Linked DNA regions of Homo sapiens. The protein of the gene in region 2 purifies or fractionates together with the protein of the main gene of each other region. This does not show direct contact. Each region holds a gene or a part of one and is shown on either strand. Other genes may lie near its edges.

Region 1 (7,024 bases), on a different chromosome or scaffold from region 2:
GTATGCAAGGCATCATGAGGTGTAATGAAGAGCCAGAATCAGTATGGGCTGGAGGCTGCAAAGTGGCTGTCTTGGCCAAGCTGCATGATGTGTTTTTAAAAATGTTGGATTTAAACTCCTCTAGGCAAGGTGGTACTTTGCAGTGTTACAGACCCTACATGGAGGCTGCTTGTTTTATTTACTTACCTGCTTGGCTGCCCAAGACATTTGAATTTATAACCCTATTAGGCATGCTATGCTGGTTTCATGTGAGTCACTAGAAAATATTTGTTGAGCACTTCTTATTTGCCAGGCATTGTATTAGCTGCTGCTTTGGAACTGATCATAACATTTTCCAAAGTTCTTCCACTGGGAAATAGTAATAATAATAGTGGAACACCAACAAATGCTTTGCCTTTTGTATTGACTTTCCTCCCGGACTGCCTTCACATATGCTCTCTTATTTTGTCAACAATACACAACATACCTGCCTAGCAGGTAGGGCTTACTGTGTTGGGGAAACGTGGTTTCAGAGCTTTTGCAGTTTCTTCAGGTTCACACGGTTAGAATTCTGCTATTATGCTTAGTGCTTTATTATCCCACTTGATGCTCACAACAGCTTTACGGGGTAGAGTTGATGCTAATCCCCATTTTACAGGTAAGAAAATCGTTAGTGCTAAGATCCAAGTTCAGGCCTTTCCCACTCCAGAACACAGCTCCTAACTTGTTAAGCTACACTTCCTCACTAGAAGGCCAAAGTTGGAAGAAAGCTCAAAAACATCTAGTCCAGCCCCCGATGTAGATCAGGACCTGAGGTCCAGAAAGGCTTGTGTTTGTGGCAAAGCTGTGCTGCAGGAGGAGGACTAAACCAGAAGTGGGGGCCTAGGCCTTCTTTTGTCCCTAACTGGTGGCATGGCCTTGCCAGCTTCTCTGGACTTCAGTTCCCTTATTTATGTAATGAAAGGGCTTGGCCTGATTTTACACTGAGAACAATGCTGTGCTGTTATGGTCAGTATTGAAGGAGTTCACAGCCCGAGATTTTAGTTGTAACCCAGGACTCTTCCCAGCACACCACACTCCCTCCCTACCCAAGCTCCATCTCCTTGTGCAATCACGGTTTTCTAAAGTTTAATTCTGAAGTTCATCTGTATTTTCCATCTCAGTTTCTGTTTCCTCTCATTTCCAAAAACTGAGGTAAGTGGTTTGTAAACACTGACTTTTTGTAAATTCATCTCTTCAGTCATTGTGGTTAGGGATTTGGAAAGTTCTAGGCAATTAATAATCCTCAGTCAGTAGTGTTTTCACTCTCTTCTGAAGGCATTTAGGTCTGGAGGCACCCTGGAGGGAATTTTCCTGTGGAATTCTGTGGACACAGCTATGTGGCAGGCAGTGTGCTGCAAACTGGGGGAAGAGTAGATGGGGGAATAGACTTAGGCTTCATGAGTCCTTGCCCTCAGGTTGTCAACTCTCCTGGAGCTGTGGGTCAACCCTGAGCATCTGAGAGTTTATAAATGACCTGGGGTGTGTGTTGATGGTGCACAACCAGAGTTGAGAACCACTGTTTCTCGGACCTTATCTGATCTAGAGCCTATGTCCCAGACTTGAACATGCACTTGAACCACCTCAGGATCTTGTTTGAAGGCAGATTCTGATTGGGTGGGTCTGGGCTCCCAGGGATACTGCCGCTGCTGGTATGCACATCACACCTATCGTAGCCAGGGAAGAGACTGCACATAGAGAATTATAAATCAGTAGGATCAGGAAGGTATGTACAGAAGACTGGGATCACAGATGAGGCTGCAATTAATTTTCCCTGAGGTGAGAGGATTAGGAAAGCCACATAGAAGAGTGATTATCTTAGCTGGGCCTTGAAGGTTGAGTTGAAGTTTGCCAGCTGGACAAGGAAGAGGAAATAATAGCACAAGCAAACATACAGACTCAGAAGAGCATGGTTTTTCAGGGAACAGGTGGTCTGGTGAGAACATGGCATCTGCAAAAGCGAATCTGAAAGCCAGTTCCACCACAGAGCCACGGTGGAACTGGAGTAAGTTGAATGCTCTGCTAAGGAGCTTACTTAAGCACTATTCTTTAAGTATAGGAACACTACAGAAGGTGTCTGTGCAGGATAAGAGAAGACCCAGGCCATTCTTACAGCAGGAATCAAGATGAAGAAACCCAAATAGTTCCCCTGCCCCCACACCCCTTCTCACCACACCTTTGCCTCTATGTAAGTTTGTGGCTTTTTACCATGTGTGAATGAGTCCTGTGTCTAACATACTTCAACAAAAAGGGGAAACCTCAGCTGCTGTTGGTATGGTGGTCCTTCCCAGGGCTTCCAGCAGTAAACATAAGAACCTTAATCTCTGCCAGTCAAATCCTCCCTTTTCTGTACCTCAGAGTCTGATCGTCATTCAGTGGACTGAACTAAGGGAAGTTGAATCACTTCTCAGATGAGAAGATTTCAGAGGGGGAAGCCTTTATAGAGATTGTGTTCTCGATTAGAAAGGGCGTGACTCCAACTTGCCTTCTTGATGAGGTTGCATTCTGTTGCAGGAAACATAAACCAAACTTACCCATGCCTCCTTCACCAAATCAAAAGCCAAATAACTGAACAAAAAGTACACATCCGTTCTTATCCTGAAAGGAATAGGGGGAAGGAGGGGAGCTGGAAACCTGGCATTCTTCATCCCAAATTCCTTACTAATAGGAGGAGATCATCTTTCACTTCATTCCTTAAGATTCGGTTTCCAATCCTGCTCTCAGAATCCAGCTCCGTGAAGCAGCAGTCACTGCATGGGTGATTGATAAAGCTCCATGGGGCTTCTGTAACAGTGCTGATTTTATAAGCACACCTTCTAGAAGCCACTTAGAGACTGCTCCATTGGAGACACTAATGTTCCTATTTTTCTCTACTTTTCCCAGCTCTGTGTTTGAAAAACTGGCCTTTCATTCTTATGACTTATAGTAAAATTGTCATCAGGTCAGTGTGTGCCTGTCTCCTGTTTTGTAGCATTTTGAGTTTTCCAAATCATCCTTATATCTGTAATGCTTAAAGAGGAGTGGAAGGTAGAAGGGTGGGGAGTTGTTTAATCCGGAAGGGGCCCTCTGGGCCTGGATATGGAACTACAGCTCCCTTATGCTGGTGGTTTGCAATTGAGCTACAGTACTGCTGAGTGGCGGAGCAAGAGGCTATTTATAACCCTGAGAATTTTGCAATGTTACTGAATTCCTTTGACCTAATTTCTACTTCCTTTCTAGAATGAAAATGAAGGGAGTAAGCAAACACGTGCTGGAAGGGTTCCCTATAAGGAGATCCTTTATCCTGGGAATATTATCTGGAGAACAGAATTATTTCTAGTCTCCTATCTCCTGATGTTTCTTTTCGATAGGGAGAAAAGCAGAGGGAGGTTTTCCTCTTTCTTTCAACTAGAGTTAGGGGTGCTAACCCTGATTTTTCAGTAAGACTTATTCTAATGTTTGATATGAAAACAACAGTTTTTTATTTTATTTTTATTTTTTAATAGAGACAGGATCTCACTTTGTCACCCAGGCTAGAGTTCAGTGACATGATCATAGTTCACTGCAGCCTCGAACTCCTGGGCTCAAGCAACTCTCCTGCCTCAGCCTCCTGAGTAGCTAGGGACTACAGGCACACGCCACCATGCCCAGCTAATTTTTATTTTTTGTAGAGAAATGTCTCGAACTCCTGGCCTGAAGTGATCCTCCTGCCTTGACCTCCCAAAGCATTGGGATTACAGGTGTGAGCCACTGCGCCCAGCCAAAACAAACTGTTAAACAATGGAAATACTGTGTAGTTAGAGGGTATTGGGACGCAGAGGGAACACCAGACAGCCTGCACAGTTCATGCCTGTCCCTGTCTGTTTGGAGCCAGCCTGGTTCACAGGAGTGGAAGAAATCAGAGCCATTGGGTTTAAGCAGACACAGGTGCTTACTGAGCCTTCACTGGACACCAAGTGCTGTGCTAGGTTATGAGACTGCAGAGTTATACCTGTTCTGGAGGAGGAGCTAGTGGAGATGTGTAAATATGTAACTGTAATAGAGTATGACAAAATCGTACTCATTAACGGAAGTATGAACAGGATGCTGTGAGAACACAGAGGCCCCTGTCCTATTTACTTTTGCCAGGGAAAGTAGAGAAAGCTAAGACTAGTACAAGGAGGAGGTAACATCCGAACTAGGCTCTGATGCTTGAATAGGAGCTCTTCTGACAGTCAGTAGGAGGAAGAGAATGTGCAAAGGTACAGAAGAATTGAAAGAACATGGCCTGCCTTATAGAAATAGCCCGTAGTCCAGGATGGCTAGATTGTAAAGGACCAAATAGCACACGAGGGAGTGTGGCCCACCTGTAGACAGTGGAGAGCTGTCTTCTGTTACAATGGTGAGTTCTTGCTGTGAAGGTTTCTTAGCCTCAGTGTGCTTTGGTTTCAGATACACAAACCAGAAATCTCCACAAAGCACCTGCTGCGGGTCAGGTGCAGAGCCACCTGCTTTCTCATGGCTTTCCAGCAACACCAGACAACCTGGTATCAAATTCTGGCTGTGCCACTTGCTAGCTATGTGACACTGAGCCTTCTACTTAACTCCTCTGTGCCTCCATTTTCTTATCTCTAAGGTGGGGATAATAACATACCACACAGCATTGCTGTGTGGATTAAATGAATTAATATATGTAAAGCCCTTAAAATAGTGCCTTAGCATTATGTAATTGCTAGCTAATGTCATCATCTAAGGAAGTATTATATAGAGCGATGAGAACTCGCTTTGGAGTCCTAAGACCTAGGCTTGAGACCCAGTTCTGATGTGTTGGGTTGATTTAGTTTTATTTCTTTTCCCTCCCTTCATTTTTTTTCTTTCCTTCCTTCTTTTAGGAGGGAGGTGTAGAAAGAGGTACATGGAGAACAAGTTTGTCAATCCGTCTGAACTTCAGTTGCCTTACCTGTAAGGTAGGAATGTTTTTCAGAGTTCTTATGAGCATCAACTATAATAATGATATAGAAGTGAGCAATCAACTATAAAGAGGCTACCTGGGCTGGGCACAGTGGCTCACGCCTGTAATCCCAGCACTTTGAGAGGCCGAGGCAGATGGATCACCTGAGGTCAGGAGTTCAAGACCAGCCTGGCCAACATGGTGAAACCCCGTCTCTACTAAAAATACAAAAATTAGCTGGGCGTGGTGGTGAGTATCTGTAATTCCAGCTACTCAGGAAGCTGAGGCAGGAGAATCGCTTGAACCCAGGAGACAGAGGTTGAAGTGAGCTGAAATCATGCCATTGCACTTCAGCCTAGGCGACAAGAGCAAGACTCCATCTTTTAAAAAAAATTTAAAAAAATAAAAATAAAGAGGCTACCTGTACGTTACTACTAGATATATGATTACTATGAAGTTACCATATAACCGATCTGTTTCAAACAAATCAGACTTATCTAGTGGGTAAGAGCAAACCCATGGGTTTTGCTCTCATTAATTCAGCCATTGTTAATTAAGTGCTTACCCAGTACCATCATCATATGCTAGTGATGCTGCTGTCTGCTCAGACCTCCGTTTTAGAGTTCCTGCAGAGCTTGGGGGCAGCTGTGGTCTTAGGCGTATTAGTTGCAATGAGTAGAAACATAGACTAGCTTAATTTATAGGAGTTTTATTGGCAGGATACAGTGGACTTTCAGGTACCCCGAGCATAGGAAGTAATAGCCACATAATCTGGAAAGTTAGCAGGTAATGGCTTTTCCATCTCTTTCTGATTTCTGGCCTCAGTTCATTTAGATATTTATGGATTCCTCCTGCAGAATCACTTCCTCTGAAAGGCTCTTGGTTTTTTATTCTCCATATCTTTGGCTCGTACGGATCTTTGGCTTGCCATGGTATTCGCTCTGAAGCTTACTATGATCTTACTTCTCCAGGGTCATTATCACCCAGTTCCCTTAGTCTGTGTCTTTTATTTGTTTGTATGTATGTATGTGTGTATTTATTTATGATGGAGTCTCATTCCGTCGCCCAGGCTGGAGCGTAATGGTGCAATCTGTGCTCACTGAAACCTCCGCCTCCTGGGTTCAAGCTGTCCTCCCTGCCTCAGTCTCCCGAGTAGTTGGGATTACAGGCGCCCACCATCATGCCTGGCTACTTTTTGTATTTTTACTAGAGACGGGGTTTTGCCATGTTGGCCAGGGTGGTCTCAAACTCCTGACCTCAGGCGATCCACCCACCTTGGCCTCCCAAAGTGCTGCGATTATAGACATGAGCCACCACGCCCAGCCAGTCTCTGTCTTTTAAATTCAAGAGAAAGAACTGGAATAGTTCAGCTAAAGTTGGGTATTCACTTTAGTCCCATCAGCTATGGCAGGGTTGTGGAGAGTGTCATTCAGTTCAGAGAGGCTGCCTGGGCTTTGTGGGAAGGACAGAGTCACTGAGAATGGGGGCTTATTAATATCTTTCAAATAGTTTGGTGGTTGCAAATCTCCATGCTTTAAAATGTATACGAATTTTTGAACAGCCGAGAATCATTCAGGGCTAACTTTAATAAAGAGAGAGTCAATCTAGGATATGTCATATGGGGTCAAGAGAAAATAATAGCTATAACCTAATGAGCTTTAGCTTAATCTCCAAAGACGGCGTTCAGAAAGGAGTTAAAAATCATGGGGTTTGTTTCTTAGCAGCACCATCGAAATTAAGGAAGGGTGTAACTTCATTTGGTAAGGACTTTAAAATGGGCATCCTCACTTGGATTTTTTAAATTCCACTTAAGAATCATGGACTTTTAGACTTAGAAGGCACCTGAGACATGCTTTAGTTCTACACTCACATCTTTCAATAGAAGAAAACTGAGATTTGGTTAAAGGGCCATGTATACATTGTGAAAGACCTAGGATTGGGTCCTGAGGCCTTTGGTTCTAAATCCAGTCACTTGTTTCAGCAGGGACAATTATCCCAGCCCAGTGTTCTTTCTGTTGTACCTTCTGTGCCTGCTTATTTTAAAAATAAGAAGAAGCCAAACTAAACAAATGATCTAAAAAGTCATATCGTATAGTT
Region 2 (7,024 bases):
AGGGGTTATCATCATTTCTGGGATGACTCTGTGTGCTGTGTGCCCCTAGGTGGAGGTGAGCCCTCTGGAGAATGCCATCCAAGTGGTTGAGAATAAGAACCAGGAGCTACGCTCCCTGATCAGCCAGTATCAACACAAGCAGGTGCATGGCAACATTAACCTGCTAAGCATGTGCCTGAATGGTGTCATTGATGCAGCTGTCAATGGAGGCATTGCACGCTATCAGGAGGTAAGCTGTGGCCACAGGCCAAACCCATGCAGCCAGCCTGGCCAGGAAGGCGGCTCACAGGCTTCTCTTTTCAAGATTATAGTCTCCTTAGGTAGCCTTCCCTACATGCCCTCTCTTGACATGGTCCTGGAATGAGGCCCTAAGCTCCCTATCACTCCCTATTTCTTTGGCACAGTTTGGTAGGGCCTTTTCTTCATTTTTATTCTCTGAACTCTAAGATGGGTAATCTGTAATCCTGATTATGGGAGGATGTTAAGTGCCCTCCAAGAGGAGCCTTGGAGCCCAGCCCGTCAGGAGAAGTGAGTTGTAGGCTGGATAAGAGGCTAGCCCCTACTCCCAGTCCACCAGTCCTGCCTGCCCTACCTAGGCCATCCAGGCTCCATGAGGGACTGGGGTCAGCATCCAGACTTAGATGGCTTGGCCACGTTCAGTCCTTCTCAGACAAAAAAACACACCTCTAATTGCCAGAAGTTCAAACAGGCCAGACTGGTGTATGTACCTATGAGGAGACAGCCTGGCTGCTTTTTAGGTGGCATTAGTGGACTCAAGTCTCCTGGGCCCCACTTAAGTAGTAGTCCTGGGAAGAGTCTTCCTGACTTGGCCTTTCCTTTCACAGGCCTTCTTTGATAAAGATTACATCAACAAGCACCCAGGAGATGCTGAGAAGATCACCCAGCTCAAGGAGCTTATGCAGGAGCAGGTATGTCTTGGAGGGCTTGGGAACCAGCAGCCAGGTGAGAAAAGCCATGCACTACAAGATGAGCAGTTCTCAGGGGCTACTCATGGTTCACAGAGTGGCCTTGTTTGTGACTCTGATAGGTTCATGTCCTTGGAGTTGGGCTAGCAGTTCATGAGAAGTTTGTGCACCCAGAAATGCGGCCTCTGCATAAGAAGCTAATTGATCAGTTCCAGATGATGCGGGCCAGTCTCTACCATGTAAGTTGATCCCTGTCCTGCCCCTGCTGCAGTAGAACCAGGTGTCACTTCCTCCAGACCTACGCCACAAACCAAAGGAAAATAGGAGAGAGGGAGCCTGGGCAGGGGCCGGGGTTGGGGAGAGAGGCTGTCCTCCCTACAGAGGGACAGGGGGCAAGGATGGATGCTATATCCAGGGGAAGGATGCTGAGGATCCTCCCACTCACTCACTCCCAAAGGAGGAGCCAGATTCAAGGGCAGGGAACGTTTTTCAGGGCACTGTGCTAGTAGACAGGTTTTCATATGTGAAGGAAGAGAGCTAACATATATGGCCCACATGTAGGGATCTTTTTGGAGATGTTTTTCATCCCAAGAACCTAAAGAGATAGGCATGGCCTGAGCCAGCCTTCTCTCCCCATCTCCCTCCTCCTCCTCTCTCCCTGTCCTTCTTCATTCTTTCTCCTCCCTCTAATCGTTCTCTTTTCCCTCTTTTTACTCTTCCTCCCAACTCCCTTTTCTCCCTCTGTCTCTCCCTCCCTCTTATTCCCAGCTTCCTCTATCATGTCTCGTGATCCAAGCTCACATCTGAGATAGCCTAGGATGAGCAGTACTTTCATGCTAGCAGTCCTTAAAGGAGTCAAGCAGGTCCTGGGGCTGGACCAGGCTCCTGAAAGTCTCCCTAACTCTGGCCCAGCTCTTCAGCCTCCACAGTAGGGTTTGGCCCAAGGACTTAAACACACAAACAGGACTTATATTCCAGGACCAGTATTCCTTGGCAGGGTCTTAGAGGAAATGCTGACTGGCTGAGGATAGAGCCCCCTATTCACATATCCAAACCTCATTTTCAACTGTGGGGCTGACTCCAAATGTTTTCTAAAGATCCCTTCCTGCTAAACAGGCTGGCTCCCAGATCTTAAGGGATATGAGCCCAATTACCTGCTGCTACCTGGCACCCAAGCCAAGTTCTCTTCTCATCACCCAGGACCACTGGACAGAAGTGGCAGGGAGACAAGAAGTAGAGCTGTTCAATGCTGCACGAGGTTGTCATGAGCAAAAAATTCCCCCTCTAGGGATAACCATGGCCACAGGAGCCCTGAGGGAGGTTGCACTACTTAAACTCAGTGGGCCTGACCCATTTGGGGCGGACCTGCTGTGTTCTTGGATGCTGCAGGTTCTGGTCATCTCCGTCCCTCCAGGCTCCCAGTGCAGGTCTCAGCCTGTGTGGACAAGTGTGGACAGCATGAAAAGAGAAAAAGAAGCTTGTTGTAGTTTGAGAGGTAGGGGCACATTTTCCAGAGGAAAGCCTGGAGATCCTGAAATTTCTCCCTCTGTTAGGATTCTCCCATGGTATTTCAAGGTGAAATATGCAGAGAAGCTCTTTTACATCTCCGCCTTAAAATTGGAGTGTCCATTTAGTTAAGAACTTGGGCAGTATCGCTGAGTCTGGTGGGTATTCATTCCACTACCTCTCATTCCAGGGTCTCCTGCCTGTTTGACTGGTCTCTGCTGTGTGCAAACTTCCCCATCACAGCAGGTGACCCAAGCAGGCTGGAGCCTGGCCAGTGAGGAGGTTCTCTGCCATGTGGGTTGCAGCAAAAAGCACAAAACACTTTCCTATATACATCACGTTCTTCCGTGTGCACACATAGCCTTTCTCCAGCTACAGAAATACATTTTAGCCCTCTGTATGCTTTGGAAGAAGCAGGTGGAAAACCCGGTGCTTCTTCACACCAAGCTCAGAAATATCCCCAGTGGACTTAGGGCCCCTGTTCACTACAGCTTTTGAAGGACGTGAGGAAACCTTAACAGTTGTTTCCTCTGAGTTGTACACAGGGACACAAACAAACATGCTGTCACCCAGTAGGGTTTGAGATCAGAAGTGTCTGCCCAGAAATCTACATACTTAATATGAATTAATTAAGCTAAAATAGAGCTGTGCTATTTTTCAGTTACATACATCAGGATTTTATGTTCTGTCTCCCCGTAGACTGTGTCACAGACAACCCAGGTCACTAAGAGCTGGGCCATTTAGCAGTCTAATAAAACCCAACACCAATCCTTATGTAATTGGTGCCCACCTATTGACAACTAATAATAAGCTCTTCCTCTCCTTCTTCCCAGATCTTGTTCTACTTATTCCGTAGCGAGAAAACCTGTTAACACACTCCTATGAGCTCAGACCAGCTTCAGTTTATTCCAGATGTGCTTCTCTTAATGTGGAGTCAACCTGGGGCCTCGCACACGGCCTTTGGTCTAGGTTCCAGTGCAGTTAGGAGGGTGTTTTAGTCGTGAAGAGGGCATTGCCCAAAGGAAGTCAGCAGTTCAGGTTCAGCCAACCATATGATTCTTTTTTGTTTCTTTTACATTTTTGATCACCAGTCAGTTATTCCCTCACATCCCTTAGTTACTTATTTATTCTTTACTCTCTATGAAGGGGCATTCATTTCTCAACAGGAGTTTCCAGGTTTGGATAAGCTAAGTCCTGCATGTTCAGGCACCAGCACCCCACGGGGAAATGTTCTGGCATCCCATAGCCCCATGAGTCCGGAGAGCATCAAGATGACCCACCGGCACAGGTATGGCCTTAGGGCTGGGGAGGGTTCCCTCTGGAGAGGTGAGTCTAAATTGTCAAGGGTCAGAGGAAAGAGTCCTCATGTATACTCATATTCCCTCTTACCCATGCACACAGCAAACACTTATGTGGCTCCTGCCATAGGACCCACACCCTGCATTCAGTCAGTCACTATCCTGGGTAAGAGAAGTGTATACATGATACTGTGGGAACATGGAGGAGGGGGCATTTGGGGTAAGTCTTGAAGGATAAGTAGATGTTTGCTAGGGGTTAGGAGGGTGATAGGGCAAGATCTAGGAAAATCGACTGACACATGCAGAAGCCTCAAGATATGAACAAGCCAGCCTGGTCAGCACTCTGAGTAGAGCCAAGTGGCTGGAGTGCCGGATTCCAGGGCACGGAAAGGGGATAGGATCAGCTCTGAGTGGGCCTTGTTCATGCAGGCCTTTGGACTTGATCCCAAGGAGAATGAGGATCACCAAGTCAGTTTTAAGGAAGAAACAGCATAGTGATGTGAACATCAAAGACTGGTTTGCCTGGGCTCAACTGAGAATACTGAAAGCCTCTAGGCCAGGAAGGCCAAGTTGGAGGAGGAGACTAGTGAGAGGAGCCCCTCACTTAGGCTTGTTTTCCAGTGTGAGCAGCAGCTCAGCACAGAGTGGGCACTTAGTAAATAAGGGACAAATGAATGAGAAGCTTTCCTGGTATTGCTAGAGGAGAGCTATTGACAAGCCTTTTGGCCACAGATGTGGAAGGAGGCCTGCAGATAGTTCACAGCCGGCTATTTTGGTAGCTTCCCACACTAGGAAGAAGCCTCTGACCAAGAAGCAGATCCCATCATGGTGTGGGGGGGTTGGGGGGTGGGCACTGACCCAGACTAATACCCCATAGAAAGGGGAACCTGAGGTCTTTGACCTGATTTGGCATATCTCTTATTCCTCCTGAGAAACTGCTAATGTCATGCAACTGAGTGGCCATAAGCCATGTAGCTGTAGGTAGAGGCTTGTCCAGTGTACCACACCATTGTCTCTCCCAGACCAAGGGCTCCTGAGTAGCAGGGTACAGCTCAGGACTGCTCCAGGCCTCAGATGGGTATGAGCATTGACTATGGAACCCTCCAAACCGGTGGTAGCTGAAACCAGGGATGACTATTCCACACATTCCGCTCTACTGTCCCCCTGCCACCTGCCATGGGCCTGACTCCTCCCTATTTCCCACTCTTGCTCACAGCCCCATGAACTTGATGGGCACAGGCCGCCATTCATCATCCTCTCTCTCCTCACATGCGTCTAGTGAAGCAGGAAACATGGTGATGCTGGGTGACGGCTCCATGGGTGATGCTCCTGAGGACCTGTACCACCACATGCAGGTACAGAGCTGTCCACGGAGAGTGGGCCAGGGCACCATGCCTACAGAACTCACCTTGCTGTTGCAATGTCTAGTCTGAGGGCTTGGCAACCCTGCCTAATTCTCTAGCTCCTGAATTCAGAACACCCCTCACCAGAGCTAGAAAGCTGCCGTTCCTCCACACACCATCCTAAGTCTCGGTTCCCAGGCCTTATTTCCCAAGAAGAAAATCCAGCTTCAGTCCTGGTTGCTTTAGGAGATCCCACGGGAAAGATCCTCTGCCAGATTGCCCCCTTGCCTGGCATTCCTGTTGGCTTAGCCCTGCTTCCTCCATGGTCACCGTAGTATGGCCAGCCCAACAACTTCGCTCCATATGGGTGGTGTGGGTGGCCCCTAGTTGCCCAGCCATTAGCCTGGCCTCCATCAGGGCTCAGGGGATAGCATAAGGCACTGGGGCAGAACACCTCAGGGCATGAAAAAGCAAACTCTGTGCCAGCCCTAAAGTCCTGGCCATTCAGACCTCTATCCTGCTGATTTTTCTCCCTTTGCAGCTCGCGTATCCCAACCCCAGGTACCAAGGCTCAGTCACCAACGTCTCTGTTCTGTCCTCGTCCCAGGCAAGCCCTTCTTCCTCCAGCCTGAGTTCCACTCACTCAGCACCATCCCAGATGATTACCTCTGCCCCTTCCAGTGCCCGAGGTAAGGATGGCAGGGTGCTACTTGCAGAATGGAGAAGAGAGGTCTTCATCAACGCCACTCGGCTTCCTCTCATCTGTGGCTGTGTCTTTGAGCAGCCCTGTGACTTAGAGAATACTCATTTGTGCTTTTACCACTAAGGACTCGAGAGTTCCTGCCTCCAGGCCTCTTCCCTGGCTGGCTTCAGACTCCGCTCTGAGCAGTGGCTGCCGCTGTGCCGCCATTGCATTTCTACCTCAGTCACAGGACACACAGCTTAGAAGAAAGCTCACTTCTTTCCCATTGAAAGTTTTGCTAGAACAAAGATCAAAGTCTAGGCAAAAGTGAGTCTTTTGTCTTGAGGAATCAGGCATGATGACAAAGTATGAAAAGTAAATCGGGAGACTAAAATTAACCCTGGAAAATGTTATTCTAAAACAATAACAGCAACCAAAAAATTTTTCTTCAGTTGGGAAAGGCTTTCTCAGGAGAGATGGCTCTGTAAAAACCTATTTACTTTGCCAATTATTAGTTGATTTCTTGTTCAGTTGAATGAATATTGTTCTTTGAGAGGCAGCATCTTCGCATCTTTTTCACGTTCTAATCCTAGTTCCCAAGTGAAAGTTGATTCTGTCCTTGTAGACAGAAACATTTGCAGTGGAATGGAAATTAGCTGTGGTACATAGGATCTAGTGCTTCCCAGGGTTGGCTTTGCAGGGTAGTGACAGTGGTCTGAGCTTGCCAGCCAGTCACTTGCTCTTGCTTCCAGGCTTCAGAAGGAGGGAGTCTCTTTGTTCTTCTCATTATTATGAAACCAAAGAAAAATATCACAAATTTATTTATTTATTTTATTATACTTTAAGTTCTATGGTACATGTGCACAACGTGCAGGTTTGTTACTATGTATACATGTGCCATGTTGGTGTGCTGCACCCGTTAACTCGTCATTTACATTAGGTATATCTCCTAATGCTATCCCTCCCCACTTCCCCCACCTGACAACAGGCCCCAGTGTGTGATGTTCCCCACCCTGTGTCCAAGTGTTCTCATTGTTCAGTTCTCACCTATGAGTGAGAACATGCAGTGTTTGGTTTTCTGTCCTTGCAATAGTTTGCTCAGAATGATGGATTCCAGCTTCATCCATATCCCTACAAAGGACATGAACTCATCCTTTTTTATGGCAGCATAGTATTCCATGGTGTATATGTGCCACATTTTCTTAATCCAGTCTGTCATTGATGGACACTTGGGTTGGTTCCAAGTCTTTGCTATTGTGAATAGTGCCG

What was found. Proteins that work in one complex are often made in the same cells at the same time.
Region 1: the proteins of DOCK3 (region 2) and ELMO2 purify together in Homo sapiens (affinity purification with mass spectrometry; 2 studies listed by BioGRID and IntAct, with this or other methods). This does not show direct contact.

The regions. Positions count from the first base shown.
Region 1 is NC_000020.11:46,396,616-46,403,639, reverse strand, and holds part of ELMO2 (engulfment and cell motility protein 2), read left to right. Parts: intron 1-4,868; 5' UTR 4,869-4,943; intron 4,944-5,620; exon of another isoform or gene 5,621-7,024. UniProt on the Homo sapiens protein: Involved in cytoskeletal rearrangements required for phagocytosis of apoptotic cells and cell motility. Acts in association with DOCK1 and CRK. Was initially proposed to be required in complex with DOCK1 to activate Rac Rho small GTPases.
Region 2 is NC_000003.12:51,356,913-51,363,936, forward strand, and holds part of DOCK3 (dedicator of cytokinesis protein 3), read left to right. Parts: intron 1-49; coding exon 50-229; intron 230-845; coding exon 846-929; intron 930-1,048; coding exon 1,049-1,165; intron 1,166-3,598; coding exon 3,599-3,720; intron 3,721-4,946; coding exon 4,947-5,085; intron 5,086-5,614; coding exon 5,615-5,762; intron 5,763-7,024. UniProt on the Homo sapiens protein: Potential guanine nucleotide exchange factor (GEF). GEF proteins activate some small GTPases by exchanging bound GDP for free GTP.